Linked DNA regions of Homo sapiens. The protein of the gene in region 1 purifies or fractionates together with the protein of each later gene. This does not show direct contact. Each region holds a gene or a part of one and is shown in the gene's direction. Other genes may lie near its edges.

What was found.
Region 2: the proteins of HAO1 (region 1) and KCNAB2 purify together in Homo sapiens (affinity purification with mass spectrometry; 3 studies listed by BioGRID and IntAct, with this or other methods). This does not show direct contact.

The regions. Positions count from the first base shown.
Region 1 is NC_000020.11:7,934,495-7,950,164, reverse strand, and holds the start of HAO1 (2-Hydroxyacid oxidase 1), read left to right. Parts: upstream 1-9,706; 5' UTR 9,707-9,742; coding exon 9,743-9,879; intron 9,880-15,529; coding exon 15,530-15,670. UniProt on the Homo sapiens protein: Broad substrate specificity (S)-2-hydroxy-acid oxidase that preferentially oxidizes glycolate.
Region 2 is NC_000001.11:6,037,336-6,052,889, forward strand, and holds the start of KCNAB2 (voltage-gated potassium channel subunit beta-2), read left to right. Parts: upstream 1-8,552; 5' UTR 8,553-8,848; intron 8,849-14,175; 5' UTR 14,176-14,201; coding exon 14,202-14,419; intron 14,420-15,554.

The DNA.
Region 1 (15,670 bases):
CATTAGCTCTCTGAATACTTCCAGAAATGAAGCCAATGGACTATATTCAATGTATAACACAGTCAAAGGAACATCAACTCTCCCAGATACAAAAGAATCAGTGTAAGAACTCTGGCAATTCAAAAAGTCAGTGTCCTCCTACCTTCAAATGAGCCCACTAGCTTTCCAGCAATGGTTCTTAACCAGTGTGAAAGTCTGAAAAGAGAGACATAGAATTCAAAATCTGGATGGCAAGGAAGCTCATTGAGATCCAGGAATAAGTTAAAACTCAATCCAAGGAAGCCAAGCAATCCAGTAAAATGATTCGAGTTGAAAGACAAAGTAGCCATTTCAAGAAAGACCTAAACTAAATTCCTTGAACTGCAAAATTCACTATAAGAATTCGTTGAACAGTTGTAAGTATTAACAGCAGAAAAGAACAAGATGAGGCAAGAATCTCAGAGTTCAAAGACCAGTTCTTCAAATCAACTCAGTCAGATAAATATAAAGAAGAAAGAAATAAGAAAGATGAACAAAACTTCCAAGAAATATGGGATTATGTAAAGAGAACAAATCTACATCTCATTGGCATTCCTGAGAGAGAAAGAGAGGAAATGAACAACCTGGAAAATATATTTAATGAAGAGGTAATTTGTGAAAATGTTCCTAATCTCTCTAAAGAAGTTGACATGCAAATCCAAGAAATACAGAGAACCTCAGCTAGATACTATACAAGATAACCATCCCCAAGGCACACAGTCATCAGATTCACCAATGACAATGCAAAAGAAAAAAATCTTAAAGGCAGCTGGGAGAAGGGGCAGGTGACTTATGGAAGGAACCCCATCAGGCTAGAAGCAGACCTCTCAGAAGAAACCTTACAAGCCAGAAGAGGTTAGGGGTCTATTTTCACTGCCCTAAAAGAAAAGAAATTTCAAACAAGAATTTCATATCCAACCAAACTAAGCTTCATAAGTGAAGGAAAAATAAAATACTTCTTAGATAAGCAAATGCTGAAAGAGTACATTTCATTAGAGCAGTCTTACAAGAGGCCCTTAGGGAGTGCAAAACATGGAATCAAAAGAATGATACCTGCTGCCGCAAAAACATGTGTAAGCACATAGCCCACAGGCACTATAAAACAACTGCACAATTAAGTCTACATAACAACCAGCTAACAACATGATGACAGGATTAAAATCACACATATCAATACTAACATTAAATGCAAATATGCCAAATGCCCCACTTAAAATACATAGAGTGTCAGGCTGGATAAAATGATAAGACCTAATCATCTGTTGTCCTTCACAAGACCCATTGCACATGTAATGACACCAACGACTCAAAGTAAAAGGATGAAGAAAGGTTTACAACGCAAATGGAAAACAAAAAAGAGTAGGAGTCACTATTCTTACATCAGATAAAACAGACATTATGCCAATAAATATTAAGGACAGTGAAGGGCATTACGTAAAGATAAAGGGTACAATCCAACAAGAAGCCTTAACTATCATACATATATAAGCACCCAGTCTGGAGCCCACTGTTTAATTAAGCAAGTTCTTGGTCTAAGAAAAGACTTAGCAACCCCACACTAATAGGGGAGACTTCAATACCCCACTGACAGTGTTAGACAGATTATCAAGGGAGAAAACCGACAAAGAAACTCTGGAAAAAGTCAACTCTTCACCAGTTGGACCTAATAGTCATCTACAGAACACTCCACCCAGCAACCACAGAATATATATTTTTCTCATCTGCACATGGAACATGTTCTAAGGTTGACCACATGCTCAGTCGTAAAGCCAGTCTCAATAAATTCAAAGAATTGAAATCACACCATGCACACTCTCAGACTATGTGCAATAAAACCAGAAATCATTATCAAGATAATCTCTCAACACCACTGAAATACATGGAGGTTAAACAACTTGCTCCTGAATAACTCCTGAGTAAACATTGAAATTAAGGCAGAAATAAAAAAAATCTTTGAAATTAATGAAAATAGGGACACAACTTAGCAAAATCCCTGGGATGCAGCCAATGCATTGTTAAGAGGAAAGTTTATAGCCCTAAGTGCCTTCATCAAGAAGTTAGAAATATTTCAAATCAACAGACTAGCTCTACACCTAAAGGAAGTGAAAAAAAGAGAATAAACTAGACTCAAATCTAGCAGAAGAAAAGAAGAGCTAAATTAGAGAAGAGCTTAATGAAATTGAGATGCAAAAATACAAACAAAACAAACATCAATGAAACCAAGAGTTGGTTGTTCAAAATAAAAAAAAAAAGATTGATTGACTACCAGCTAGACTAACAAAGAAAAAGAGAAGATCCAAAAAAGCATAACCAGAAATAACGGAGGCAATATTACAACTACAGAAATACAAAATACAAAAATACAGAAATACAAAAGATCCTCAGAGACTACTATGCACAACTCTTTGCACACAAATTAGAATATCTAAAGGAAATGGATAAATTCGTGGAAACGCACAATTTCCTGAGATTGAATTAGGAAGATATTGAAACCCCGAACAGACCAATATCAGCTTCTGAAATTGAATGAGTAATAAAGAACATACCAAGAAAATAAAAGACCTGAACCAGATGGTTTCACAGCCAAATTCTGCCAGATGTGCAAAGAAGAACTGATTCCAATCCTACTGAAACTATTAAAAAAATTGAGAAGAATCTCCTCACTCATTCTGTGAAGCACAATCAGCCTGATACCAAAATCTGGCACAGACACAACAGAAATAAAAAGGTTCAGGCCAATATTACTGATGAACATAGATGTAAAAATTCTCAACGAAATATTAGCAAACCGTACCCAGCAGCACATCGAAAAGTTCATACACCACAATCAAGTAGGAAATACATGCAAAAATCAATAAATGTGATTCACCACATAAATACAATTAAAAGCAAAATCTATGTGATTATCTCAATACATGCAGAAAAAGCATGAGATAAAATGTAACATCACTTTATGACAAAAACCCTTAACAGATTAGGTATTGAAGGAAAATACCTCAAAATAATAACAGCCATCTATGACAAACACACAGCCAACATTATACTTAATGGGCAAAAGTTCAAACCATTCCCCTTGAAAACTGGAACAAGACAAAGATTCCCCACTCTCACCATGTCTATTTAACATAGCATTGGAAGTCCTAGCCAGAGGAATCAAACAAGAGAAAAAAAAAAAAGGCACCCAAATAGGAAAAGAAGTAATCAAACTATCTGTGTTCACTGATGATATAATTCTATGCCTAGAAAATCCTATAAGCTCTGCCAAAAGGCTCCTAGAACTCATAAGTGACTTTAGTAAGGTTTCACGATACAAAATCAACGTATAAAAATAAGTCACATTTCTATACATCAACAATGTCCAGGATGAGAGTGAAAGCAAGAACACAATTCCACTTACAATAGCCACAAAAGAAATGAAATACCTAGTAATACAGCTAATCAGGGAGGTAAAAGTGCTGTACGAGGAGACTATAAACCCTGCTGAAAGAAATCAAAGATGACATAAATAAATGGAAAAACATTCCATGCTCATGGATTGGAAGAATTAATATCATAAAACAGCCATACTGCCAAAAGCAATCTACAAATTAAACACTATTCCTATCAAACTACCAATGTCATGCTTCACAGAATTAGAAAAAACAACAGCAACAACAACAACAAAAACAAAAACTTCTAAAATTCACATGGAACCAAGAAAGAGCCCGAATAGCCAAAGCAATCCTAAGCAAAAAGAACAAAGCTGGAGGCATCACACCACCCAACTTCAAACTATACTATAAAGCTACAGTAACCAAAATAATATAGTACTAGTACAAAAACAGACACATAGACTAATGGAACAGAAAAGAAAACTCAGAAATATGCCACATACCTACAACCATTTGACTCTTGCCAAGGCTGACAAAAACAAGCAATGGGGAAAGGACTCTCTATTCAATAAATTGTCCTGGGATAGCTGGCCAGCCATATGCCAAAGACTGAAGCTGGACCCCTTTCACCATATACAAAAATTAACTAAACATGGATCACAGATTTAAATGTAAGACTTCAAACTATAAAATTACTAGAAGACAACCTAGGAAACACTCTTCTTGACATTGGCCCTGGCAAGAAATTTTTGGCTAAGTTCCCAAAAGCAATTTCAATAAAAACAAAAATGGAAAAGTGGGACATAATTAAACTAAAAAGGTTCTGCACAGCAAAAGAAGCTATTAACAGGGTAAATAGACAACCTACAGAATGGGAGAAGATATTTGCAAATTATGCGTCCAATAAAGGCTTAATATCTAGAATCTATAGGGAACATAAAGAAATCAACAAGCAAGAAACAAATAACCTCATTAAAAAATGGGCAAAGTATATGAGCAGATACTCCTCAAAAGAAGACAGACAAGCAGCCAAGAAACATAAAAAAATTCTCAGCATCTCTAATCATCAGAAAAATGCAAATCAAAATCACAATGAGATACCATTTTACACCAGTCAGAATGGCTATTAGTAAAAGGTCAAAAAAAACAACAGATGTTGGACAGTCTGTGAAGAAAAGAGAATGTTTATACATTGTTGGTGGGAATGTAAATTAGTACAGCCACTGTGGAAAGCAGTCTGGAGATTTCTCAGAGAACTTAAAATAGAGCTACCATTCGACTCAGCAATACCATTACTGGCATATACCCAAGGGAAAATAAATCATTCTACCAAAAGGACACATACACCCATATGTTCACTGATGCAGTATTCACAATAGCAAATACATGGAATCAATCCAGGTGCTCTTCAGTGGTAGATTGGATAAAGAAAATGTGGTACATATATACCATGGAATGCTGTACAGCCATAAAAAAGAATGGAATAATGTCCTTTGCAGCAACATGGAGATGGTTGGAGGCCATAATCCTAAGTGAGTTAATGCAAGAGTAGAAAACCAAATACTGCATGTTCTTACTTAGAAGTGGAAGCTAAACATTGAGCACACATGGACATAAATATGAGAACAACAGACACTGCAGGCTACTACAGTGGGGAGGGAGGGAAGGGAGCATGGATTGAAAAACTACCTATTGAGTACTGTGATCACTACCTAGGTGACAGGATTTGTACCCCAAACCTCAGCGTCATTCCATATCCCCAGGTAACAAAGCTGCATATGTGCCTTGGTATCTAATATAAAAGTTGAAATTATAAAAAAGAATAAGCCTCTTAAGAAAAAAGTCCCCCTTTACATTCCATCTCGCCTAAACCATGGTCCTCAAACAATGTTGTGCATCAAATCACCTGGAAGGCTTGTTACAGCACAAATAGCTGTAGAGTTTCTGATTCAGTAGGACTAGGATGACGCCTGGAACTTGCATTTCTAATGACTTCCTAGGTGATGCTGATGCTGCTGGTTCAAAGTCACACTTTAAGAACCAATGGCCCTTATGTGTCTTCTTTAGTTTCACCGGGACTTGACCTGATTAACAATATTAGATTGCCTCTTCATTCTAATCACATTAGTTGCAGGATGCTAATTATTTTAATAAATGCTAAATTTGCACATAAATATGCAGATAAAAGGTCATGCTTTAATCTTTACATTTTGAATGAGTTATAAGCCATAATTAAGATCCCTTTGACCACATTTTCATAATAATTTTGTTAACTATGAAACTGAATTATTTAGAACTTGCTTATCTTATTGGCAGATTTTTCACATCCTAATAGCGATTTTAATATGTCATTTCATCTGTCACTACATTGATGCAAAAAGTAAGCATTTGTGAACTTTGAGAATAAACCTATGTACTATAAAATTCTATGTCAATTTTAACAGCATATGACCCTTCGATTAAATTAAAACCCTTTATTTTTTATATACTATATCATTACAGCTGGGAAAGACCTAATGGCTTATATTTTTGGTTCTGGTTTCATTCCCAGTTTGCCTAATAGGCTGCTATGGAGCCTGCATCTTTGGTTTCTAGTTGCTTTGTCAGTAGTAAAAATAGATTTGATCCATATCCTCTCTCCTGCTCCTTTTGGTGACCCACAGCATGGGAATTTCATATAACAGGTGACCGTGCTTTGTGTTCACTCTGTGGCCACAGGTCAAAACTAAGTCACAGATTACATACTGAACCCCTTAGTATTCTTCTTCATCTTAGACGATTTTCCTTCTCCAAAATAAACTCAAAGGGTATTTACCCACTGTAAGATATGATTTTACACCCTATTCTTTCTACCATATAAAGCCTCATGAAGCATGGGATAAGGCAATTTTCAAAAAGATCTGATAATATAAATATACATTAGTTATGAAAGACACTTCTCTTGGGGGTGTAGAAAATAAACTGGACTAATTGCAAATCTAGCAAAGAAATACTCAAAGGGATTAACTTACTTGAAGAAAAATGGCAATGGCCTTCCAGAAGCTCAAGAATCCCTTTGTCCAATCTCTCGTACATTAGGGAATTGTCCTTATATAATTGACATTAAACAAAAGTCTTTTGGAAAAATGTGTTGGTAAAGTATATTGAGAAGATGAGGGTGGGTAATATTAATGAAATACAGTTTATCATTGAACAATATGGGGGTTAGAGGTACCGACCCACCGTGTAAAACTTTCGACTCCCCCAAAACTTAACAACTAGTAGCCTACTGTTGACTGGAAGCCTTACCAATAACAAAATCAACTTACACATATTTTATATGTTACATGTGTTATATACTGTATTCTTACAATAAAGCAAGCTAGAAAAAAGAAAATGTTATTAAGAAAATCATAAGGAAGGGAAAATATATTTACTATTCATAAAGTGTAAGTGGTACATCAAAACTCTTCATCCTTGTCATCTTCACATTGTGTAGAATAAGGAGCAGGAGGAAGAGGAGAAGTTGGTTTTGCTGTCTCAGGGGTGGAAGAATCTAAAGAAAATCTACATATAAGTGGACCCTTTTTTTTGTTCAAAGGTCAACTGTGCCTACTATATGCCAGGTGTTTAAGCGATGATATATCCTTTGTCCTCACAGTCACTCCTCAGGGTAGGGATGAATATTTCTCTTTGTCTTGGTTTGAGTTTCACCAAAAGGAGACTGAGAGGCAAGCATTCAAATGCAAGGAGTTTATTTGGGAGGTGAAGGGAGCACCAATGAGGAGTAGGGAAGTCTGATTAGAAGGGAAGGCAGCCAGGCCGGGCACGGTGGCTCATGCCTGTAATCCCAGCACTTTGGGAGGCTGAGTTGGGCGGATCACGAGGTCAAGAGATCAAGACCATCCTGGCCAACATGGTGAAACCCCATCTCTACTAAAAACACAAAAATCAGCTGGGTGTGGTGGCATGAGCCTGTAATCCCAGCTACTCGGGAGGCTGAGGCAGGAGAATTGCTTGAACCTGGGAGGCGGAGGTTGCAGTGAGCCGAGATTGCGCCACTTCACTCCAGTCTGGTGACGGCGTGAGACTCCATCTCAAAACAAAAAACAAACAAAAAAGGAACATAGCCAACACAGCATAGATTATCAACCAGCTCACACTGTGGATAACTGAAACCTGCAATGTAGAACATAATCCTAGGAGTAATCCCACCAGAAGAATGAACTTTCTTGGGCTTGTGATTGAGGGCTGTTCCACAGGGTATGGAACTATACTATTTGGCATGCTATGTTTATGAAAAAAGCAGGCTCCAAGTTCAAGAGCAAGTTCTCCTACAGGTGTAGGTGGTTGGAATGTAGATAGTGAACAACTGGCAAGCAGCTTTAAGTGGCGGCTCCTAGATTGAAACTCAGGTCTAACTGTAGTTAAAATCATTGCTTTCTCAAGCATATCCTACTAATGTGAATCTTCCCCAGGTGTTCCATGATTGAGTGAAATTATAGACTGAGACCACAGGTCTTTTGGAATAGCACTTCCCTATACCCTCTCCAGGGCAAGATAAGACTCTAAGAATTAGTGGTAGGCCATGTGCAGTGGCTCACACCTGCAATCCCAGCACTCTGGGAGGCCGAGGTGGTTGGATCACTTGAGGTCAGGAGTTTGAGACCAGCCTGGCCAATATAGTGAAACCCCATCTTTACTAAATAAAAATACAAAAATTAGCCAGGCGTGGTGGACATGCCTGTAGTCCCAGTTACTTGGGAGGCTGAGGCAGAATAATCTCTTGAACCTGGGAGGTAGAGGCTGCAATGAGCCGAGATCACACCACTGCACTCCAGCCTGGGAGACAGAGAAAGACTCCATCTCAAAAAGAAAAAAAAAAAGAATTAATGGTAAACCTAAATGCCCATTAAGAGACAAATGGATAAGGGAAATGTATAGATATACACACAATGAAATATTATTCAGCCTTATAAGAGAAGGGAATCCTGTCATTTGCAGTAGAACCCAGAGAACATTATGCTAAGTGAAATAAGCCAGGCACAAAAGGGAAATTATTGCATTATTTCACTTATAGGTGGGATTTTGTTTTAAAAAAGACTTCAAATGCACAGAGCTAGAGAATGAAACAGTGAATACCACTAGTGGGAAGCAGGGAAGAGGAAAAGGGGTGATATAGGTCAAAGGATACAAAATAGTAGACACGTAGGATACATAAATCTACAACAGGGTCCCTAACCTTTTCGGCACCAGGGACAAGTTTTGTGGAATACAATTTTTCCATGGGCAGTGGGGGTAGGTGGATGGTTTTGGAATGAAACTGTTCCACCTCAGATCATCAGGCATTAGATTCTCATAAGGAGTGGCGCAACCTAGATCCCTCGCATGTGCAGTTCACAATAGGAGGCGGAGCTCAGTCTGTAAAGCTTGCTCACCGGCTGCTCACCTCCTGCTGTGCAGCTTGGTTCCTAACAGGCCACGGACCAGTACCAGTCCATGCTGGGGAGTTTGGGACCCCTGGTCTAGAGAGCAAACGTGCAAAATGAGGACTAAAGTTAATAAAATTGTATCATATTAGGAATTTTTGTTAAATAAGTTGATTTTAGCTGTTCTTGTCATACACACAAAAAAGTAATTACGGGTGAGATGATACATATATTATATTGGCCTCCCTACTGTAACCATTTTTCTGTGTATATGTATCTCATAATATCATGTTGTAAACCTCAAATATACAGAATGAATAAAACAATTAGCTGTCAATTTGGCCTTAATGTTCCATGTTAAAGCCAAATGTCTATGTTTGTAATCAGCTAAATTTTATATTGTGCAGAAGCCCTGAATTTCACGGATGCCCCATATTTCATGGATGCCCCGTTCAGTTCATAAGCTCTTGTTTACATGATTTGTGCATGATCCAAATGTGGAAAGAAAATGAGTGGGCAGCCTATTCTGGGTATCAAGCAAAGAGCACAGGCACAGACCATGTGCAATAAGCAGCCTTAGGCAAAACTGAACCAAGAGTGGTTTCATACAGGTATTCCTCTAAGTCTTTAATTTTTTACTTATTCCTTTCCCCTTTTTAATGTGATAGACACCTAATCACCTTCTGCTGCCTTCCCAACCTCAACTTTGGTGTTCTTTGGCAGATAGTGACTTCGGTGTTCTTTGGCAGATAGCCTACAAATGAAATTTCAAAGGCTAAGCATATAATGTTTGCTCACTTGATGTAAGCAACAGAGAACTAAATCTGAACTTTGGCAAAAGTCTATTAATAATTGACAAATAACAGAACAGTGAGGATGTAGAAAGCAATACATTAAAAAAAAAAAAACAACGAACTCCATCTGGGATAGCAATAACCTGTGAAAATGCTCCCCCGGCTAATTTGTATCAATGATTATGAACAACATGCTAAATCAGTACTTCCAAAGTCTATATATGACTATTACAGGTCTGGGGCAAATGATGAAGAAACTTTGGCTGATAATATTGCAGCATTTTCCAGGTAAGAAAATTTATTTTTTAAAATCATGTTTTAAAATTACACAAAGACCGTACCAAAATAAGATCTCCTAGTTTTACGTTGGTGGTGTGTAATTATTTGTTCAGATTTGTGCTTAGTAGAGAGGGAAAAGTTCTTGGGGCTGTAAGAAATCTTGGGCCTTTAAATTGTTAAAAAATATTCCAAGCCTGTGAATCTTGAGGAACTGACTGCAAAAGCCAAACCTATGTTACTTCACTTGGAAATATGACAACAATTAATTTAACTACATGTAAAAATAGCGATAAATTCGGATGACTTTTCTTTTTCTTAGTATGACAGTAAATGCTTATGTTCATGGTGTAGGAAACAGCATTAAATGCCAGATAACCATCTTATCCGGATGAACCAGACTGGATTGTTGGCTCAAATGTTTTCTTCCTGCTGGCTTTTCGTGTTATCATTCATTTTGATTACTGTTGTCTAAACTTTCACTTTAGATTTCAATTTGTCTATGCAGCATTAATCTTTCAACTTTGCTGTTTCATCTCTCCTTCAAAGCACTTCATCTCTCTTCCCAAATTAGTTTTCCTTTGACTTTCATATTTCAAAGCACAAGATGGTGGGTGACATGGTTTATGTTTTCTGTTTGTAATAAAAACAAGAAATAAAATCATTTCAAAGGGTTTTTTTTTATAGCAGTTACAAAAATGGTTTATTTGCTGGAGCAAGAGAGGAGTGCCTTCACTACACTACACTCAGTCTCATCCATCTAACATTATGGCTGTTAGTAAAGGCAATCGGTATTGTGGGTACTCATTGATGGTGATAAAGACAAAAAGGCAGAAAATATGCAGGGGGAGAGAATTAGCCTTCCTCCCTGATTTCTTCTTTAGTCTACAACAAAATCACTCAAAATCAGTTTTCCATATTTAAATTAGGAGAAATAAAATTATCCTGGCCAAGGTGGTCTCTGGTAGGCAGCACTGATTCACCCACAAATCCATGTAGAAGACTGAAAATGGCAATGGGGTGAAGGATACGGCCTCTCCCCAACCCTTTCAAGCCTTGACTTTGTCTCAGGTTTTGCCTGGAACCCAAATGAGCTCAACAAATGCCAGGGAAGTCATGGGAAGGGAAGTTGACTGAGAGTAGAGGGGCTTAAAATTCTGCATCATTATTTACTATTTTGGACTCATTTAAAAGTTTCTGCTCTTGGAAGATGCCCCTTCTTGGGCCGATATTAACTTTGTCCACCAAAATTTGCCTATGAGTGGTCTCTTGAAAACACTTTAACCCAAATAGGTTATTACAACCAAGGAAATTTCAGACCCTTGACAGATTTATAGAGTTAGTGTCTCAGCATTGCTAGACCTCCAATGCTCAAGTGATTATTTATTTCATTTGTATACAGCTTTCCTTACTTCTTAATTCCCTTTGTCGCATGCTAGCTAATTAACTAGAGCTAATTAGGAGTCTCCATGAGCTACACTGTGTACTACATGCTGAGGACAAAGCAGTGAGCCAGACAAAGTTCCTGTCCCTAGGAACTTACATTCCCCTGGATGCATATCAGCCTCCATAATGCTGTTGGGTTGAATTGATGCAAAATGGGCCCAAAATAGTTGGCCAAGTGGAGGTCTCAGAGAGGATGCAAAGGGGCGCCCCAAAGCAGATGGATCACCTATGCAACCCTTTAAAATGTAGAAACTTTGGGAGACATAGAAGGCTTGGTGACTTCTAAGTTATGAACTGGAAAAGTGCCTCATGCCTTATGTGAATTACATGGTATTCAAGTGAGTATTCCCATCCTATGTGTGTACCGAGTAACTTAGGGATAGGACACAGATAATGAAAATGAATTTGCAGTGTCACCTTTTCCATGAACCTTGATCATTCTCTTTTGTTCAGCTTTAAATTAAAAAAAAAAATCAATCAACTTTCTTTGGAGGACAGCTGATGCTATTTTATTATCAACTAGTTGAGTTTTTATTGCAATACATTTTGCAATGTGTCCTCTTTTGCTGTATGACTCGCTAGGTGAACCTTGATTCCTCACACTGCATCATGTAGCTGGTCACGTGAAACTAAGAATAGAAATTCTGCCAGGGTTGTGGAGACTTTGGGTTGATGGCATGAAGGAAATCAACCTGAAATTTCACATTCTGATTCTAATGAAAAGTGCAAAACAATCAAACCTCAGATAACCCATTGTGATACAAAGCCAGAGTATTTCAAACACATTTATGAAATTTATACACCTCCCCATCTCGCAAGTACAACAAAAGGTCATTCACCGTGACAGCTTTTATTTCTCTGTACTCAGCTCTGATAATCACATTTTGGAGTTCTGGGGACATGGACCACTCATGTGACCCAGCAGTTGCTTGGAGATATTTTTGGGTAAGACTTCAGACTAATATTACTGTGGCAGTAGAAAAAAATGTTTAAAAGGACAAGTAAATGGAACCACCCAGAACAAAATTTCTTACGGTGGTTATAACAAAACAGGGTAAATGTCAACTTGCTACATTTTGCATGGCTGGAATTGATTGGGATTAATTCAACGAAGAACAGTAATTTGTTTCTCTTACACATTTATTCAAAGTAGCCTTCTCAACTATGGTCTTCACGTTGTTGTAGCTTTTTTTTCTGAAATTATCAATGATGGAAGATGATTAAACAATTTCGACACTTAGAAGCCCTCATGATTTCAGAAAAGGAAACTCTTTTCTGCTGCGTTACCTATTGAGACTGAAGATGGCATCATTTTCTTTTAAATAACAGATGGGTAAAAGTGATGTCATTCTTTCACTTTAATATTTGAGAAGTGATATGAAGTTACCAGTGACATTGTGTTCTCATAGGCATAAATGTCACAAAATAATTTATCTAGTATCCACAATAGGTGAATAAGGTGTTTTTGCTTTATATATTTTAACTGTTTAGAGTAAAAAATTAATGTGGAGAAAATTGGAATGCAGTATTATAGGATTACACAACTTACAAAACATGAATCCACTATGTCCAGTTAGTGTGATTCAGAAACAGCATGCAGTTATAAAGCTGGGTGAGGCATGGGTGTCTTCCTTCAACAGGGCAGCTACTTTGTGAGGAGTGTATATATCATTTGATTTTTTTATAAGTTAAATTTGAGGCCCCTGTTAGATGTGAGGGTGGGCCAAAATTCCTGTGAACAGATTCTCCCCGTTACCCCGCTTCCTTTACTCTGGCATCTCATTTTCTATCCTTTGAAAACGGTTTATTATTCAATTGGTTCAACTGTTTGCCAGTTGAACCAATTCTTTTTCCAAAGTGGAGGCCCAGGAAAGCACAGTCCGAGAATATAGTGAGGTGCTATTTTATGTATGATTGTGGGAAATTTACTTAAATTTGGAGTGGGGTTGGGCAAGGCTTGGAAAGCTAGTGAGCTATCTGACATAGTTGTTACTACTATTTGAAAAATATCAAAACATGGAGGACTCTTTAGATAACATGCCTGTTCCCATTCCATTGATTTTATCTAATTTTACGTAGCAATTACGTTTTGTGCATTGGTTGACAAGCCTCTGTATTATCCTCAGAACAGAAAATACTGTTTAAGGGAAATTAAGAGCCCGCAGTTACTAAAGTGACTGCGCCACCAAGTGGACAAGTGTAAAGCCACTGTCTGGAGATGGAAGGATTCAGCTTTGCTTTATAAATGGGAATTTGACCTTTAAAAATGTCCCTTTTGGCACGCACGCGCGCGCGCGCGCGCGAACACACACACACACACACACACACACACACACACACACACACACGGCTGCTGCCCTGCAGATTTGCTTGTTCTTGTCATAAAGCTTTCATTGTTTCTCTAGCTCTAAGTAAATATTAATGCCTTCCAAGGCTGGCATGCCAATGGCTGCTATTAAGATCGTTTTCTCTCATTCTAATAACACACTTAGAGATGATTGGTAATAAAAACTCTCTTCAAGGCTTCTGCTTCTCCCCCTTCAAAATGGAGATCAAAGAATCATGCTGTGAGGGTCCGTCAAGAAGAAAAGACTTTCAGCAACAGAGCATGTGGTGTGGCATAAAATAATGACAATTATAATGTTCAAAGGAATAGCATAGAAATCACACAGTAAAACTTCTTTATTATGCTTTTCAGGGACTGGATGTTTTTACTTTATTATGTGAGGAAGGGTTAGATTACAGACCCTTAGCTATTCCACAAAGCAATAGAAGGCAGAATTTCTTCTTCCGCTACAGGAAGCACGCTTCGATTAAGGGCTTTTTCTTTTTCTTCTTTTTTTTTCTTTAAGTTACTGCATTACTATATCATACTTCACTATATTTACTAAAAAGTCATGCTGTTTCTGGAAGTAGAGTTACATCTAGGAAATACTAGGTGAATGCTGGTTAGATATGCATGTGTGCCTAAACAACACGTTTATTATACTCATGCATACTAGAAATAGGGCTGTATTTTCTTCAATTTTAATCAGTACTAATGAGAATAATAAATCAAAACAAATAGGAGAGATATATTTTGCCAGGAGGAAAGAGAACTAGTTCTTCTGTAAATTTTACTGGTGAATTTTTGGTTGCTGGTTTATTGGTAATTTTCATTCCAACACAGAAGAATCACAGAAACATTCATTTAAAATAATTTTCCGGAGTCAAAAACTTTTTAACACCCAAATTTCAGTTTTTGTCAAATAACATTTTTGAGAAAAGTGTTAAATTAAACTAATAAAAAACCTTCCCTCATCATTAGACTTTAATGAATATGGCATATAACTAAATAATTTTGAAGAAACCAAATTATAATTTTAAAAGTAATTGCCTGAAGCTGCTGTTTATCACATAAAAAGAAGACAAACTAGACATAGCATATCTTCTTAAACTCTAATCTAAACTCTATGCATTTGTATACCATCTTGATTTTCAAGATTGGGGAAGTGAAACGAAAACTATGTTCACACAAGAACCTGTACGTGAATGTTTGTAGTGGCTTTATTTAGAATTTCCCCCCAAACTGTAAGTATTCAAAATGTCTTTTAGCTTGGGAATGACTGGACAAATGATAGTACCCCTGTATGATGGAATATTATTCATCAACCAAAAGGAACAAACTATTGACACGTACAACAACATGAGAAAATCTCTAATGCGTTATGTTAAGTGAAAGAAGCCAAACTCAAAAGGCTACATACTGAATGATTTTGTTTACATGATATTCTTGCAAAGCAAAATTATCAGGACAAAGAAAAAATGCATCAGTGGTTGTCAGGGGATTGAACTGGGGAGAGTTTCTCTGCAAAAGAAAATGGGGACTTTTTTGGGAATGATTGAACTTTTTCTAGATCTTGATTGTCATGGCAGTTACACCACTGTATGCATTTGTCAAAATTCACAAAACTGCAGACTAAAATGAGTGAATACTATTATGTATTAGTTATACTTTAATAAATAATTGCTTGGGAAATTCATTATCCTCTAATTGTTAACTTTCTAACCAAACAAACAGTAAAATTGCCTCTTTTCCATTAGCTTTATGAAGTCATTTGCTTGTTTGGAAAAAATCCAATTATATTTTTTCTTTTAACTAAAATGTAATGTCAAAGTTTTGGTTATGATTCTGAAACTCTAAAGCCTTTTATTTTATTTTATTTTTTAATTCTAGATGGAAGCTGTATCCAAGGATGCTCCGGAATGTTGCTGAAACAGATCTGTCGACTTCTGTTTTAGGACAGAGGGTCAGCATGCCAATATGTGTGGGGGCTACGGCCATGCAGCGCATGGCTCATGTGGACGGCGAGCTTGC
Region 2 (15,554 bases), on another chromosome or scaffold:
AGCCCCCATCCCCTTCTGCAAGGCTGTGTGAGGACATCCTGCCTCCCGTGGGCCGTGTTTGCTTATGCAGCATCCATGGGAGGGCTCCCTGGGGACGGGCTGTGGTGATGACTCTGCTCTCAGCAGAACCCTCCACTCTGAAGCCCTGGTTTCCTGTCCACGTCCCTCAGCTACTCAGGGGAGCCTGGGGGCAGGAACTCCATTGCTTGTAGGGGAGCCTCCCACAGCAGCAGGGCTCAGCCAGTGTTCCATGCAAGAAGAAATGCACTGTCCTCCGATCGAAAGCACAGCATCTTTAGGAGTTTAACGACAGTTTTTTAACGACTTTAGTGAGATGATTTGATTTCCTGCCTCTGAGTCATCTAAGAGCAAAATGCGTGAGCTGCTAATGGGCTCAAAGAGAGGCTGCCTTTGAGGCCCCTCCAGCCCCCCAGTGCTGCAGGGATTCAATCACCCCAAAGCCAGGTAACCAGCCTTGGCCTCCCAAAGTTCTGGGATTACAGGCATGATCCATCGTGCCTGGCCTGAATGAGGGTCTTTTTTTTTTTTTTTTTTTTGAGGCGGGGTCTCGCTCTGTCACCCAGGCTGGAGTGCAGTGGCGCGAACTCGGCTCACTGCAAGCTCCGTCTCCCGGGTTCACGCCATTCTCCTGCCTCACCCTCCCAAGTAGCTGGGACTACAGGCGCCCGCCATCACACCCAGCTAATTTTTTTTGTATTTTTTAGTAGAGACGGGGTTTCACTGTGTTAGCCAGGATGGTCTCGATCTCCTGACCTCGTGATCCACCCACCTCAGCCTCCCAAAGTTCTGGGATTACAGGTGTGATCCACCATGCCTGGCCCAAATGAGGGTCTTTAAGAATAAAACTCCAGGGGATCGTCACCAAGCCCCACCACTTCCTCTGAGGTTAGCATAGTGCTGGATCTTCTCTGCATCTTCTGTCCTTGTTTTTGGTTTTCATTTTGGTTTACTTGAAACAGGATCTTGCTCCATCACCCAGGCTGGAGTGCAGTGACACGATCATAGCACTCTGCAGCCTCAATCTCCCAGGCTCAAGCAATCCTCCCACCTCAGCCTCCCGAGTAGCTGGGATTACAGACATGCATCACCACGCCCAGCTAATTTTTTTATTTTTTAATTTTTTTGTAGAGACTGGGTCTCTACAAAACAAATGTCTCTGTGTTGCCCAGGCTGGTCTCAAACTCCTGTGCTCAAGCAATCCTCCTGCCTCGGCCTCCCGAAGTGCTGGTATTCCAGGCTGGTCCCATTTTACCAGCAGGTCTACACATGTGCTCACATCGCTCACTCAGAGGAGACCTCCGTTATTAGGGGGACCTAGACCTGTGCTGCCTTGACCCCAGGGACAGAGGTTGTTTGGGAATCCCCTCCCTTACTTTGATTTCTTCCGAGGAAGCCGGCTTCCTGGTGACGGGAGGTCACTGTTCTGGGGAAAAAGAGTGGGAAAAACAAAGCCAATCAGCCACTTGGCTAAGTGTCAGGTTTCCCAACAACTTCATGGGTTGCTGTGGATGGGCGGGGCTGTTTTGAGCCCAGACCATCCCTTTGCCTGTGGGTGTGGGACCACGTGATTTTGGATCAGGGGTCATTTGTCCTTCCAGAAGCCAAGCCCTGTTCCAGGCATGGGGGTGCAGCAGTGAGTGAGACCCACAGAACCACTGCCCTCCTGGAACACACCCCCCCCAGAGAGGGAACTGGGGCACCACAGACCCGTGTGCAGGCAGCAAGGGCGTGGTGTCGGCCGGGGAGCAGCAGGGACCCCTGAGCCCCACAGTCGGGGCTCATGGCGCTGAGAAGCACTGCAGCAAGGGCGCAGCCAGTAGGAGAGGAGCCGCAAGCGCAAGCATCCGCAGACAGTGTGAGCTCAGCGTGCTGGGAAGGCGGGGGCCTGGGTCAAGGGCCAGGCGGCAGAGCATAGGGGCCTGAGGGGGCAGTGCCTAGGAGTGGGAGGAAAGAGCATGGGACCAGATTCACTTTGGAAATAGAAGCCCCCAACCAGCAGCCAGCCAGGTGGAGGAAGGCGTGCAGAGCTGAGAGGGTTCAGGAGGCGGTGGGGGGAGCCACTGGGAGGGGACCCAGGGGTTCAGGTGAAAGACAGCAGTGGCTCAGCCCAAGGGTGGCAGCCAGAGATGTGGGTGGACGGCTGGATATTGGCAGCCATACTCATTATCAATGCTGCTGTAACAGCTCATCACAAACCCTGCAGCTTCCAACTGCCCAGAGTGAGATCTCCTGGTTCTTGTGGGTCAGGCATTGGGGCAGAGCAGGGCTGGGTCTGCTGTTTTGGGACCCCTGAGCTGCAGTCGAGGTTCTTGCCGGGACTGGGCTCACCTTGGAAACCTCTGGTAGGAAAGGATCCACTTCCAGGCTCCCTCGTTCGTTTGAAGGACTCCTTTCTTTGGGCTGTTGGGCTGAGGGCTCAGCTTCTCGCCAGCTGTCGGCCCGAGGCTGCCCTCAGTTCCTGCCCCAAGGGCCTCTCCAACACCACAGCTTGCTTCATCAGAGCCAGGAGGGACAGTCTCTAGCAAGACAGAAGTGACAGTCTTGCCATTACCTTTGCCGTGTTCTGCTGGTTAGAAGCGACTTGCTAGGTGCAGCCCACACTCCAGGACAGGGGCTGCCCAAGGGCAGGAATCCCAGGAGCTGCGGACATCAGTGGCATCTGAGAAGCTGCCTGACTTAGGAGCTCAATGGCAGCACCAGGAAGCTGCACTGGGCTGGAGTCAGGGCAAGGGACAGTGTCAGCGATGACCCTGGGGGACAGCAGTGCAGTCAGGAGCTCAGAAAGTACACAGATGCCCCCTGGGCGGTCTCTTCTGCACCATGTGGGCAGCAGAAACTACACCTACGGTTTCAGAACAACAGTTGGGGTGGTGTGGAAGGACCTCCACGACATATAAGGTGGGAGTGTGGAGTGATGGAGTGTGGAAACCCTTCTCACAGTTGTCACCTGCTCTCCAGCCCCTCCTGAGCCCGTGGACCTGCCTGCCTGCCGTGTGTCTGTCTGTCGTCTGTCTGTCTGTCTCTCTGCTGAGGGGCTCCCCGATGCCCTGAACCCAGACAGCCTCCTCAGCCTTTGTGATCCCAGAGTCTCCCGGCCAAACCTGGTTGATCTTTTTTAACCACCACCCTCTTCCCCTCCCTTATTTTGCTTTTCTTCCAGAATTTTCCCACTGTAAAAAACCGAGCAAGTCTGGATAAGTGAGGCTGGCTCCATGTATCCAGAATCAACGACGGGCTCCCCGGCTCGGCTCTCGCTGCGGCAGACGGGCTCCCCCGGGATGATCTACAGGTGACCCCCTGCCCCCTCACCCAGGCCCCCTCCCAGGGTCAGTCCTGCTTCGAGGACGGGTTCCCAAGGCCACTGTCCTCCCCTCTGGAGGTGGAAGGGCCCAAGCAGGGCCCACAGGCTTCTGCCTTCCACGGGGTTTTGAGGTGCACGCTGGTGAGCGTTTTCTCCAAGAAAGGAGCAGGGGCTTTAAAAACCCAAGTGGGAAAGAAAAACCAAAACTTTTCCAGGGCGTTTGAGCCAGAGTAGACTCCTTTCTTGTCCCTGACCCTTCCGAAATATCTCGTTTGAGGTTAACAGAGCGGCCGGACAGTGAGTGCACGGCCAACCCCGGCATCCTGTTCCTCCCACTTTATACATCGCAGCCCCTGTGGCCCTGCCAGTTTCTCCTGAGCGAGGATGACGACCTTGCAGGCCTTTGGGGAACCACGTCTGCCGGTTTCCCAACACTGGAGGGAGTGGGGGCGGCCAAATGCTCCTGGGGCATCCTGACCCCCTCCTTGTGGAACTCACTTCCGCTTGCAGCCCTGGGTGTTTCTGTCTGCACCATAAACAGCGCTGAACATCAGCGACAGCTGCGGAGGGCGTTCAGTGAGAGCTGAGCCTCTGGGGACAGAGCATAGAACCCACGAAAGACGCAGGCACAGGCAGTACCCCAGCAGCCCATCAGTCTTGGGAAGCCAGACCTTTCCGGATAATCACTGGGGCCTGAGCCAGAGCCCGTGTCTGTGACAGCCACAGGGAAAGGCAGTGTCTGTCCTAAGAAGAGCCAGGCGGGCAGGTGCGGGTTTGCCAGCACGCGGGTGCTCTGCACGTCTGGGTTGGAGGGTTTTCAGCCATTGCCCACAAGCATATTGCAAAGCAAGTCCTGAAGCACATTCAATCCAAACCAACCCTCACTCGGAGGTTCACCACGGAAAACAGGGCCTGGCATGGAAGGAGCCCTTGGTGTCCAGGAAACTGGCTCCGGGTCTCTGCCCCGTGGCCACCGGGTGGCGCTGCTGCAGAGCACTTGGCACCGGCTGCGCTTCCTCAGAGACTGCCCTGAGCAGGCGACTGGTGGGGGCCCGGGGGCATGGGACATTGGTGGTTCTTTCTGACCTGCACCTGCTGGGGTTGATGCCAACTGTGGACTCTCTCTCTTCTCTCCCTTTCTCCTTTTTCTCTTTTCTCCATTGCTGTCCGAAGTACTCGGTATGGGAGTCCCAAAAGACAGCTCCAGTTTTACAGGTAATGAGTCTTCATTCTCCCTAAAACCCAGCGAGCCGAAGGCCAGGGAGCGGGTGGGAGGACTGCACCCTTGCCGAGCAGGGTGTGCTGGTGTATTCTCTGAAGCCAAAGCCCCCGAGACCCCCAGGCTCTGCTCATCACCCTCTGTGCCTACCCACAGGATGCTGTGCAATGTCCTGATGGAAAATGTGAAGTCAGGTTAATTGTATGTGTTGGTCTGCCAGAAGTTTGCTTTGATTTGAGCAAATGGGCTTTTGATGACTGCCAAGCTCTCAGCCAAATCTACCGTTAAAGCTTCACTCATCAGGCAGTGAGGGAGATGTCTTCCTGTGGTCACCAGCTTGCCCTGCTTCCATTATCAGAGTACAGGACGTGGCGAGCCCATCCGTTCCCCCTTTGCCTGTGGGTTTGACCTGATCTGGAACTCACAGAGCTCCTCAGGCTCATTGAAGGTTAATGCCTGCTTGGGGGTGTGCAGTACTGATACGACGTGGATCAGTGACATCTTTCTGATATGTTTTTCTGTTGGTGAATTAACAAACCGGGCACCTGGCGAGAGACTGTGCCCCAGCAGGATGTGACATCAAGATGCCAGGCTTAGGGCCCTGCAGGGTGCTCTTGGGGAGACCCGTTCCTCTCTCTGGGCTGCCTCTCCCTCACCTGTAAGGCAGGGGATGCATGTTCTTGGTGCAGCCTCCAACCCTAGGAAGTAAAATGTCAGGGCTGCCTGGAGCCCATGGGCAGCAGCCTCCCCATGCCTTGGGACTGTTTGGGGAATTGGCACGGCTTCTGGCAGCAGGTCCCTGGTATGCATTGCTGCATCTTGGCGGTCAGGCCGGGAGGTCTCTCTATTCGGACCCGGACATCTGGTAACAGTGCTTTGGGGATCGTTGCCAATGTGCCAGGCAGTGGTCATGGAGGTGGCAATGTATTTCCATGTAGCTTTTCTCTCCCCGCGCCCCCACTCCCCACCCCCCCCCCCGTTTGCCAGCCATAGCACCTCTGATGGGGACCGTGGACCTAGATGCTCAGAGTGATCTGTGCCACGCCTTCAGTGCCTCCTCGGAGGTCCTGCTCCTTACAGGGAGCTCTGAAGACATGGCCAACTCTTAGATCCTACTGAAATTTTGGTAGATAAGATTTTGCTTAAGATAGTTAAATCTGAACTCCGGCTTGCAAATGCTTTCCCTGGATGAAATGTTTGTATTGTGATGTATGTACACATGGTATAACAGATCCTAACAAACATATGCCGCTCATCCCAGGGGATTTCATCAGTGAAACAAAACATGTACCTGAACTGCATCCTCAGAGAGCCGGGAGCAGCCTCAGTCCTCAGAAGGGAAGGGGTGAGGTCTGATGAGCAGGCAGGAAAATCCCAGGTGCAGACCTGCCAGCTCAAAAGGGCTGCCCACAGGTACAGACCATCCAGCTCCAAGGGCCTGCCCCTAGGAGGGGCCAAGTAAATTATCCAGTGACCAAGTGAGAGCCTTCCAGCCCACTCAAGGCCCTCAAAACCCCACAGGCTCAACATGTTGTCCCCCCCGCCGGGATCCCTGTGCTTAAGAACCTTCATTTCCAGGTGGCCTTCCTGGCCCCAAGGGAAGCTCTGAAGCTTACCCTCTAGGCTCTCAGCCCCAATTCTGGTGCCCACAGGCTCTGGCCATCCTACCCGTTGGATCTCCAGGGGGTCACTTGGGTGTCTCTTGTGGGGGCTCTGGAGATGACCTCTAAGGGCTAGGGTCTTTGTTTGTTAACAGGCTGGGGGCCACTCCTAGTAGGGCACCCTCATCACACCAAGCATACCACTAAACATGGCTATTGGATGGTTCTTTCAGTTACTTAGGCCTGGCCCTCTCACAGGGCAGAGGCGTTCAAGGCATGTGCCCTGCCCCCATGCAGCTCCCAGGCAAGGAATTGGCATAGGACACTGTGCCAATCAGCTGTCCACCAAGTGCTGCATAACAAACAACTCCAAAACTCAGTGCCACGCAGCAATCAGCATCTCTTCCTTGCTCCCGTGTCTGCGGGTTGACCAGGCAGCTCGTCTAAGCTGGCTTGGCTGGGTTTGTCTCCAAGCTGCAAGTTGGATCCCCATGTCCTCCATCTTCCCATGCTTAACTGGGGCCTACCCCAGGCATGTCCTTCCCATGGCAAAAGTACCAGAGGAAAAGCAGAAACATGCAGGGTCTCTTACGGCCTATGGTTGGGGTCAGAGCGCTGTCACCTCTGCTCACGTGCTTTTGGCCAAAGTAAGTCTCAGGAACCAGCCCACAGTCAAGGGGCTGGAAATATATTGCCCCCACCAGTGGGAGGAGCTATAAAGTCACATGGCAAAGGGCATGGGTACAGAGAGGGGTGAAGGATTGGGAGCAATACTTCCATGTACCCCAGGTCTCAAATAGCCCTGATGATCTCCAGAAGGCAGAGCACGTCACAGGAGAAGCCCAAAGAGCATTTGGGGTCCAAGGAAGGAGGGGCCACAGCCAGCTGAGAGCCAAGAAGACTTCACGGAGAAGGCAGCAGGGGCTTGGATCTGGTCCTTGAAGGCTGGGCAGGATTCAACGCAGAGGCTGGGAAGCATATTCCAGTAGATACAACAGCCTGAGCCACAGCTCAGAGGTGTGCACAGAGAACAGGAAGTGACAGTTACCCAGCCTGGGCCATCAGGGACATGATGGAGAATAAAGAGAGGCTGGCTGTAGAGGTGGATGTTGGTGGGGGGCCTCGAATGCCTAGCGATGGGGCACAGATGCACTCAGAGGGCACTGGGGAGCCATCTATGGTGTTTGAGCAGGGCAGGGGTCAGAGATCTGCTCTAGGAAGGAAGCCTGGTAGCAGGGAGTAAGACAGGGAAGAGAGAGGCTAATGCAAGGAGACCAGACAGTGCCCAGGAAAGGTGCAGGACGGCTGAGCTCCAGGAACTGCACAGAGAGAGAATGAAGGGGTGCAGGGCCTGAAAAAAGGACGTCAGAAGCCACGTCCACAGGGCTTGGCCACTGATGGGCAGGTGCTGAGACAGAAAGGGACAGAGAGGAGCAGTGGACCCAGGGAAGGAGAGGGCCTCATTCGGAGCATGTTAGGCTGCAGCTACCACCCAGTAGTGAGGCGCAGGCCCCCCGACCAGGGCGACATGTGGGGATCTGACAGAGTGGGCTTGGGCCTTTGGGGACAAACCATTTCAATTGCCAAGGCCTTCGCAGCTAGTCACCCGCAGCCAGGCACCTCCAGACTCTACGTGCTCTCCCAGCCTCCCACTTCATTTACCTTCCACACTGCGACTGGGGCACTGATTTCCTGTCCCCCACCTTCCCCCATGGCAGCTACCACTGTTTGCTCATTCATCATGGGGGGACGGTTCTGCCTCCATTCAAAATCCCACATTCACTGGCGCGCTTTCTCAGCCGGAAGATGATGTCACGCTGGGACTTTGCTGGCATCCTGTGACACGCAGTGACCCTGGGGGTCATGACCCTGGGGTTGGGGCTCAGCACTTAGCCTCATCCCAGAGCTCAGCCTTGTTTGGCCTAGTCTCAAAGCATTTCCCAAACCCCAGGTCAGGACATGTGCCGTGGAGAAGGGCTCCTGTGTCCCTGCCTGGAGTGAGTGGCAGTGTGGAGTCCAAATAGCAGGTTCTGGGGCCTTCCTGCCATTTATAGCTACCGGTAGTATCAGATATACCCATCTCGGGTGTATCCCCAGAGGACAGGAGGAGCATGCGCGTGTGCTGAGCAGAGGCCTCTCCAGACCCCCTTGGCTGTGGGTGGTGGCCCCATACGACGGGGCCCCCAGCTCCCCTGCTGCAGACACAGTTCAGAGTTGAGTGGTATGCGGAAGCCACAGGCTCTGTGTCCCGCACTCAGATACCAAAGAGCAAGGCCTGCCCCTTTCGACCTGTGGGTCCAAAGGTTTGTGTTTCTGGCACGCGGGGATGGTGGAGGCAGCAAGGGTAGGCCTGAGGGACGGGCAGGACCTCCCCCTCACCTTGGGCTGCACCCCAACCCCACGCACCGGGAGTCAGCCTTGCCAGGTTGCAGCACGGAACTGCACTTCCCGAGCTTTTAGGGGAAGAGGCACTCGTGAATAATTCAGCCTCTTTCACTGAGATGAAAACGCCCTAATAGAACTAATGGACTCGCTGCCTCAAAACTCGACTCTGGTGGGACTCATCTCATTCACCAATTGCTTCTGACGTCCTGCAGTGACACTCCCTAATGAAAAAGCCGCTGTGCCAGATCCTTAGAGTGTCTGGTGATCCCTAATAAACCAGACTGTGGCCTTTTTAACGAGCAGACGCCCCCACGAAGGCAGGTGAGTCCTCCCTTCAGCCGCTACCTTCCTAGTGGAGATGCCGCTTGGGGGCACGCATCCGCGGGAATGAAAAATAACAGAGGAGACCATATTTTGGGGTGGTTTTGTCTGATCCGGAATTAGACCCTCCGTGTTTTTGCAAAGCAGAAGACCTTAAAAAAGAGCCAGCCTGAGGTAAACTTGGAATGACCGTGATGGATGGGGTGGTGGGCGGCAGGTTTCAGCCGGGCAGCACCTCTCGCTTGAGTCTGCTCACAGCCCAGACCTGCCCAAGGCTGACTGTTTTCCCATCTGCCGGAGACACGGGCGTCTAGCTCGTACCTCGCTGTGTTCACCATTGATTAAGATTCAGCATTTTCCAGTTTTGCCCAGAGCGCTGTCAGGGAGGTTTGGTCTTGTCTGAAATGTCTGTGCAGGAAGCACGTGCTGAGGGAGCCAGGGGCTGCTTGTTTGGGCCTCAGTTTGCTGATTGTCCTTGAGCGAAAATCATTCTGTGTTTGCACTGAAGCAATGCCGTGTCTTGTAGAGCCGCACCCCGGAATGGTAGCAGCTCCCCTTCCATTTCCGCTTTGGAGAACTCTGGCTGGGCTCTCTGCTCTCTGGACAGGTGTCACCATTCAGAAGAGATGCTCAGGGTTCCTTCTCAATCTCAGGTTGTATGCTTTGTTGGCTTTCAGTAAACAGAACAATTCAGAAATTCCAGGTAGAGGAGTCTGGGGTGAGGTAGTGATTCCTACTGACTTAATGAGGTTAACATCTTCCTTGCATTTTTCCATGTCACGGTGTTAATTCACGTGAATTCCCCTGGGCCCCTGATCTACAGGAATAGATTTGCACCAGGCAGGCCCAGCCCAGGAAAGAACTTGTGGGTTCCACGTAATTAGCAATGGCTATTGAGGAGGGGCTCGTTTTTCTTGGTACCAGGGTGGTGAGGGAGTGTCAGGGCTCAGAGACCCTCACTCTGGAAAGCGGCCGGGATTTGGGATATTTTGAATTGGAAGTCAGGGGTCACTGTGCTCTTGAGCACAGGAGAAGTGGGGACCCTGAGGCAGGAGCCCGGCAGTGGGGCCACTCTCTCCTCCCTGCAGTGTCTTACCGGGGGGCCCTTCGTCCAAGGACCTGACGCTGCTAGAGTCTCGGCAAAAGCCCAGAATAGAGCCCCAGTGTGAGGGAGTCCAGAGGTGTCCTCTGTCCCCAGGCACCGCTGGTAACGGGCAGAGCCTCTTTGCCTTCTGCCTGTACCTATCCTTCTTCCCCTGGGGCAGCCCTCCCAGAGTCATGAGCCTTCAGGACCACAGGGAGCCCCCGCTGTACAGAGTCCTGGCATGGGAGTCCCCCCCACACAAGAGAGGGTGACCTGCAAAGAGCTGCTGGGTCTGAGGTAGGAAGCCAGCCCCGCCCCCACCAACAGCTGCCTGGCACTGCCAGGAAATGCCCAGGTATAGCCCTGGTTGGCCTTTTGGAGCCTGGGCCTTGGTTACTGTTCTACAAATATCTGAGCCCCTCCTCTGTGCACGGGACACTCCCGTGGGCACTGGTCAGGGGGCAGTGGCAGCAGGCAGAAGAGTCCTTGCCCTCCTGGACCCAACCTTCAGGGGAGTCCAGCGGCCATGGGCTCCTCATGGCACCAGCCCTGCTCCTCACCCCACCACCCCATGCCAAAGGCTGCCATTTCTGTGCCCGCAAGTTCCCTGGCCCAAGCCCTGCCCTGGCACCATGGGGACAAGCTCGTAGCAAGAGGCTCTGGGCTCCCTCCGTGCCGCAGGGCTCCCACCTGCAGGTCTGCTCCCAGGGCTGCAACATGAGCTCTAAGGAAAGATTGCAAGCGGGCCCCCACAGGGAGGGACGCCCTCTAAATCCTGGCCACAAAACCCATTCTGTCCTGCCCTCTCTCCCCTCTCCCACTCACATCCCCAAACTCAGCCTTCCACCATCTTGTTGTGAAGGGGGCGATTATTCACATCTGTGTTCTCTTCCCTTAAGCATTTTCTAGGGAGATTTGGTGTCTGTGTGGCTCACTCCTCTCACTCAAACCTGTGGTCACAAGTTCCTTCCCGCCCTGCCTGCTGGCCCCTGGTGGTGGATTTTTCTTTCCACAGCATTTATCATAATTGGTGTCTTATCCCACGCCCCCCAACAGACTGTCTTCTGGCTGCGTCACCAACTCCCACCCAGTTGTCCAAAGCCTCATCTCATGCAGCCCACAGCAGCCTGGTACAACAGGCCTCTGCCCAGCCTACCTCACAGATGTGGAGGCTGAGGCCGGGAGCGGTCAAGGTGCCTGCCTGGGCCACACCATGAGCAGGTGACAAGCAGAGCTGCCCCTGTCCAGAAGCTGGGCACTCAGCCACCCCGTCCTCCAGCCCCGGGGCCTTGGCTATATTTCTAGAGCCAAACCAGACCCGGATTGCTTTTTGTGAGTAATGTCTTGAAAGCTAATGGCTATTGATCTCAGCCTGGTCGGGCCAGGCAGGGAACTTGCGTGTCTGAGGCTGGTCCTGCCTTTCAGAAAGAGCCCTGGGGCTACAGCCTGCCCAGCTGGCCTTCTTTCTAAACACAGACCTCAGGGAAGTGAGGGTTGGCCCCCATTTGCCCCACACCGGACTGGCAGCTAGCCACATGGCCACCTCAGAAGCAGCTGCCTGCCACGCGCATGGAGGGAAGGGAGTGGCCGGCCAGTAGGCAGGGAAGGGAAGCTGGTGCTGCTGTCTGTGGGTGCCAAGGGCCTCATTTCCTAAGGTGAACCTCTCCTGGAGTCCGGGCCTCTCTGCCCTCCAGAGCGATTCTCCTGGAAGGCAGACGGCTTTCCATGCCAGGGTACCCGCCTGCTTTAGCGTCCAGAGGTCCAGCAGCCACCACCCCTCCCAGCATAGAAATGAGCAGTGGTGAATGCAACTCCTGGCATGGGAACCCCCCAGCAAGAGAGGACGACCTGCAAAGAGCCACTGGGCCTGAGGCAGGAAGCCAGCCCCGCCCCCACCAACAGCTGCCTGGCACTGCCAGGAAATGCCCAGGTATAGCCCTGGTTGGCCTTTTGGAGCCTGGGCCTTGGTTGCTGTTCTACAAGTATCTGAGTCCCTCCTCTGTACACGAGGGGCACTCCCATGGGCACTGAGCAGGGGGCAGTGGCAGTGGCAGGAGGCAGAAGGGTCCCTGCCCTCCTGGACTCAACCTTCAGGGGAGTGAATTCAGCACACAGGACAGCTAGAAAGGAATCAGCAAGGTGGATGATGGCGAGCGCCATGGAGACAGATCACAGCAGGAAAGAGGCACATGGTGTGGTTTGTGTGGGACAGAGGGTAGGATGGGAAACGCAGCCCCCCCACCCCCGGGAGCCATGCCCATCAGACAGAGGTGCAGAGGTGCAGACAGCACAGCAGGCTCCCCAAGGACGACTGGTTGCTCGCCTTTAGGGAGGGGGCCATCCAGCCCTGACCAGGGTGGTGGGGCCAAGGCCTGTGTGGACACTGCTACCCAGCTCCCTGTAGGGGCTCCTCGGGGGCTCCTTGCCTGCTGGTCTCTCTTTAGCTCTTCTCTGAGCCCACCTTCCCTACCTCAATTGCATGTTCATGCAACAGGCATTTGTAGGCTCTGCTCTGAGCTAGGCCTCATGCTGGGCACAACAGGGCAGACATGAATGAAGGTCCCTGCAAATAAGATACAGACGAATACTTGCAGGGAAACCCCCATGAAAGAGGCAGCTGTGGGGCTCCTGGAGGTGGCCCCCCTCTCTGGGTGCACATATAGGCAGAGCAGTGAAAGGTCAGCAGGCTGGTCACCCATTCTGGAAGGACCCCAGCACATGGGGCTCATCACAAACTCCTGCCCCTTGTGGGTCTTTCCTTTGGCCCCTGGAGCTCACCCCAGGAAAGGCCCAGCCTGGGGCAACTCCAGGACATCTCAACCCCCTTCAAGGACCGTGCTAAAGCCTCTGTAGCTGCCTCAGCTCCCAGGATAGCCCTCCCAGCTCCTTCCCAGGGATAATCGAACTTTTCCTCTCTTGGGGCAGAAGGTGGGGACAGTGCTGGTTCCTTTCCAGCTCCCAGGCCAGGTTCCAGGATCCCACTGTGCAGCTGACCCAGCTGAAATGGTGACTTCCCCTCTGCACCTTCTCTCTCTGGTGATGATGCAGAGCTGCAGTGCAGGCCACCTGGGCCATGGCCGAGGCTGCAGTCAGGTGGGGTGAGGGTCACTGGACTGGGGACCTCCTTTGTGTTGAGCCTGCCTCCATGTCCTCATTGCGCTGTCACAGACTCTGCAGGGTGAGGACTCAGCCCCGAGGCTGCCCTCACTGGTCCACTCACTGTTGTGCACATGAATTAACACCAGTGGTTGCGTTCTGGACACACGCTTTCTCCCTTGGCCTTTTAATTGTCCACTATCTCTCAGGGCTCACTCACTCACTATGTTGAGATGCCTCATTCTTGACAGCAGCACAAATTCCCACTATGTGGATGGACTGTCACTTAGGTAACCAGTTTCCCTACTGATGGACATTTACATTGCTTTTAGTTTCCAAGAATGTGCATTCATCATTTCAGCTATATTTCAGTGGTTCTTCACATAGAAACTTTGAAACTCCCCTGTCCCAACTAAGCCTATTTCCCCAGGCCACTCTCCTCCGCAACCTGCTTAAATGCATTCTGCTCAGTTTTTCTTTTGCAAAAAGCATGAAGCCCAAAGATCTCTGCGGTGCAATGATGCGTTCAACAAGCAGGGAATGTGTTGTATAGATAGCATTTCCCTTTACAAGGCTAAGAGCAAATAGGACCTTCCCATGTTGGGGCCACCTGGCATGCGGGGGTGAGGTGCCTCCCTGGCATAATTACAGGAGAGTTTACTTCAGCAACAGGTGTGCCCTGCGCTGCTTTCCCAGGGACAGCTTTTGACCCAGTTTTACCCTGGGAACCACCTCAAGAGACCACCATGACATGGTACCGCAGTCACCACGGAACAGCAACCCTGGTCTTCAGCATTTGGGGGGCTCAGGCTCTGCATGCTCTCTGTGCTCCCGTTTTCATTTGGACACTTGGGGTGCAGCTGTCCTGCCTGGAATGCAGCTTTGCCTGTGCTTGTCTCACAGATGCAGGGGACAGAAAAGGGCAGCTTAGCCAGAGTTCCTGGCAAGCACTGCTTTGCGGACTGAGAATCTCATGCCAAGAGGTGTTTACATCCAGGGGCCGGGTCCCACTCCTAGACACCAAGACCTGGTGGTGGCACTAGTTAAAGGATGTTTCGCTGCAGCTGCCCCCTGCCCCAGGGCCAGCCATCCAGCCTGGGGCACGTGGGGCATTGGCACACTGTCTAACTCATCACCGTCTGGACAGTGGCAGCTCCCAAGCCAGGCGGCACCATGCTGTCCATGACGTACAGCGAGAGTCTGCGGAGCGTGAGCAGCAGGTGCCACTCTGAATGGGCCCTGCACCCCGTCCGCCAGACGGACACGCTGGAACTGCAGCGGCTGCGGGAGGTGCGGGCGGCTGCCCAGGCCAGGAACATGGAGAGCTTCCTCCGCATGCACGGCCTTTCCCTGGACGGCTGCACCGCCCAGCGCACAGGCATGAAGTATCGGTAAGGGCCGGGCAGGGGGGCGGTGGGGTGGGAAGTCTGATTTCAGCCATATAAATATGTATAAAAGGGCTGGGCACGGTGGTTCACACCTGTAATCCCAGCACTTGGGGAGGCAGAGGCGGGTGGATCACCTGAGATCAGGAGCTCGAGACCAGCCTGGCCAACCTGGTGAAACACCACCTACTAAAAATACAAAAAATAGCCAGGCATAGTGGGGCGCACCTGTAGTCCCAACTACTCAGGAGGCTGAGGCAGAAGAATTGCTTGAACTCAGGAGGCAGAGATTGCAGTGATCCAAGATCATACCACTGCACTCCAGCCTGGGCGACAAGAGTGAGACACTGTCTCAACAACAACAACAAAAATGTATAAAGGAAGAAAATGAGGCCAGGCACGGTGGCTCATGCCTGTAATACCAGCACTTTGGGAGGCCGAGGTGGGTGGATTGCTTGAGCCCAGAAGTCTGAGACCAGCCTAGGCAACATGGCAAAACCCCATCTCTACCCCAAAATACAAAGAAATTAGGTAGGCATGGTGCCATGCACCTGTAGTCCCAGCTACTTGGGAGGCTGAGGTGGGAGGATTACCTGAGCCCAAAGAATCTGATGCTGCAGTGAGCCGTGATCGCACCACTGCACTCCAGGCTGGGTGACAGAGCGAGACTCCATTGCGCAAAAAAAAAAAAAAAGTTTAGTAAATTCTCCATGGGGTAAAAATGTGTGGGTGTGTTTCTCCATGGGGAAAAATGTGTTTCTGGGTGTTGGAGACCCCTGCTCTTAATGATAGGCACGTAGGTCTGAATTTTCTTGGAACCTCCAAAGGACATTCTTTTTAGTGCGCTTGTCTTTGAATTCAGCACCTCGGACAGCGCTCTGCTAGCCACCGTTCTCTGGCTGGTGTAAATCCCTCTCAATTGCAAATTGACAGCTTTATCTTCTGTGCCTCTCAGGAACATGCCCTTGTGAGAGCCATTCAGCCAAAGAGGACCCTCCCCACCCAGTCCTTGTAGAGTTGCCAGTTAAATTTGAAGTTCAGATAAACGCGTAACTTTTTAGCATAAATACGTTCCATGCAATATTTGGGTCATACTTATACTAAAAAGTTCCTCATTGTTTATCTGAACTTCAAATTTAAC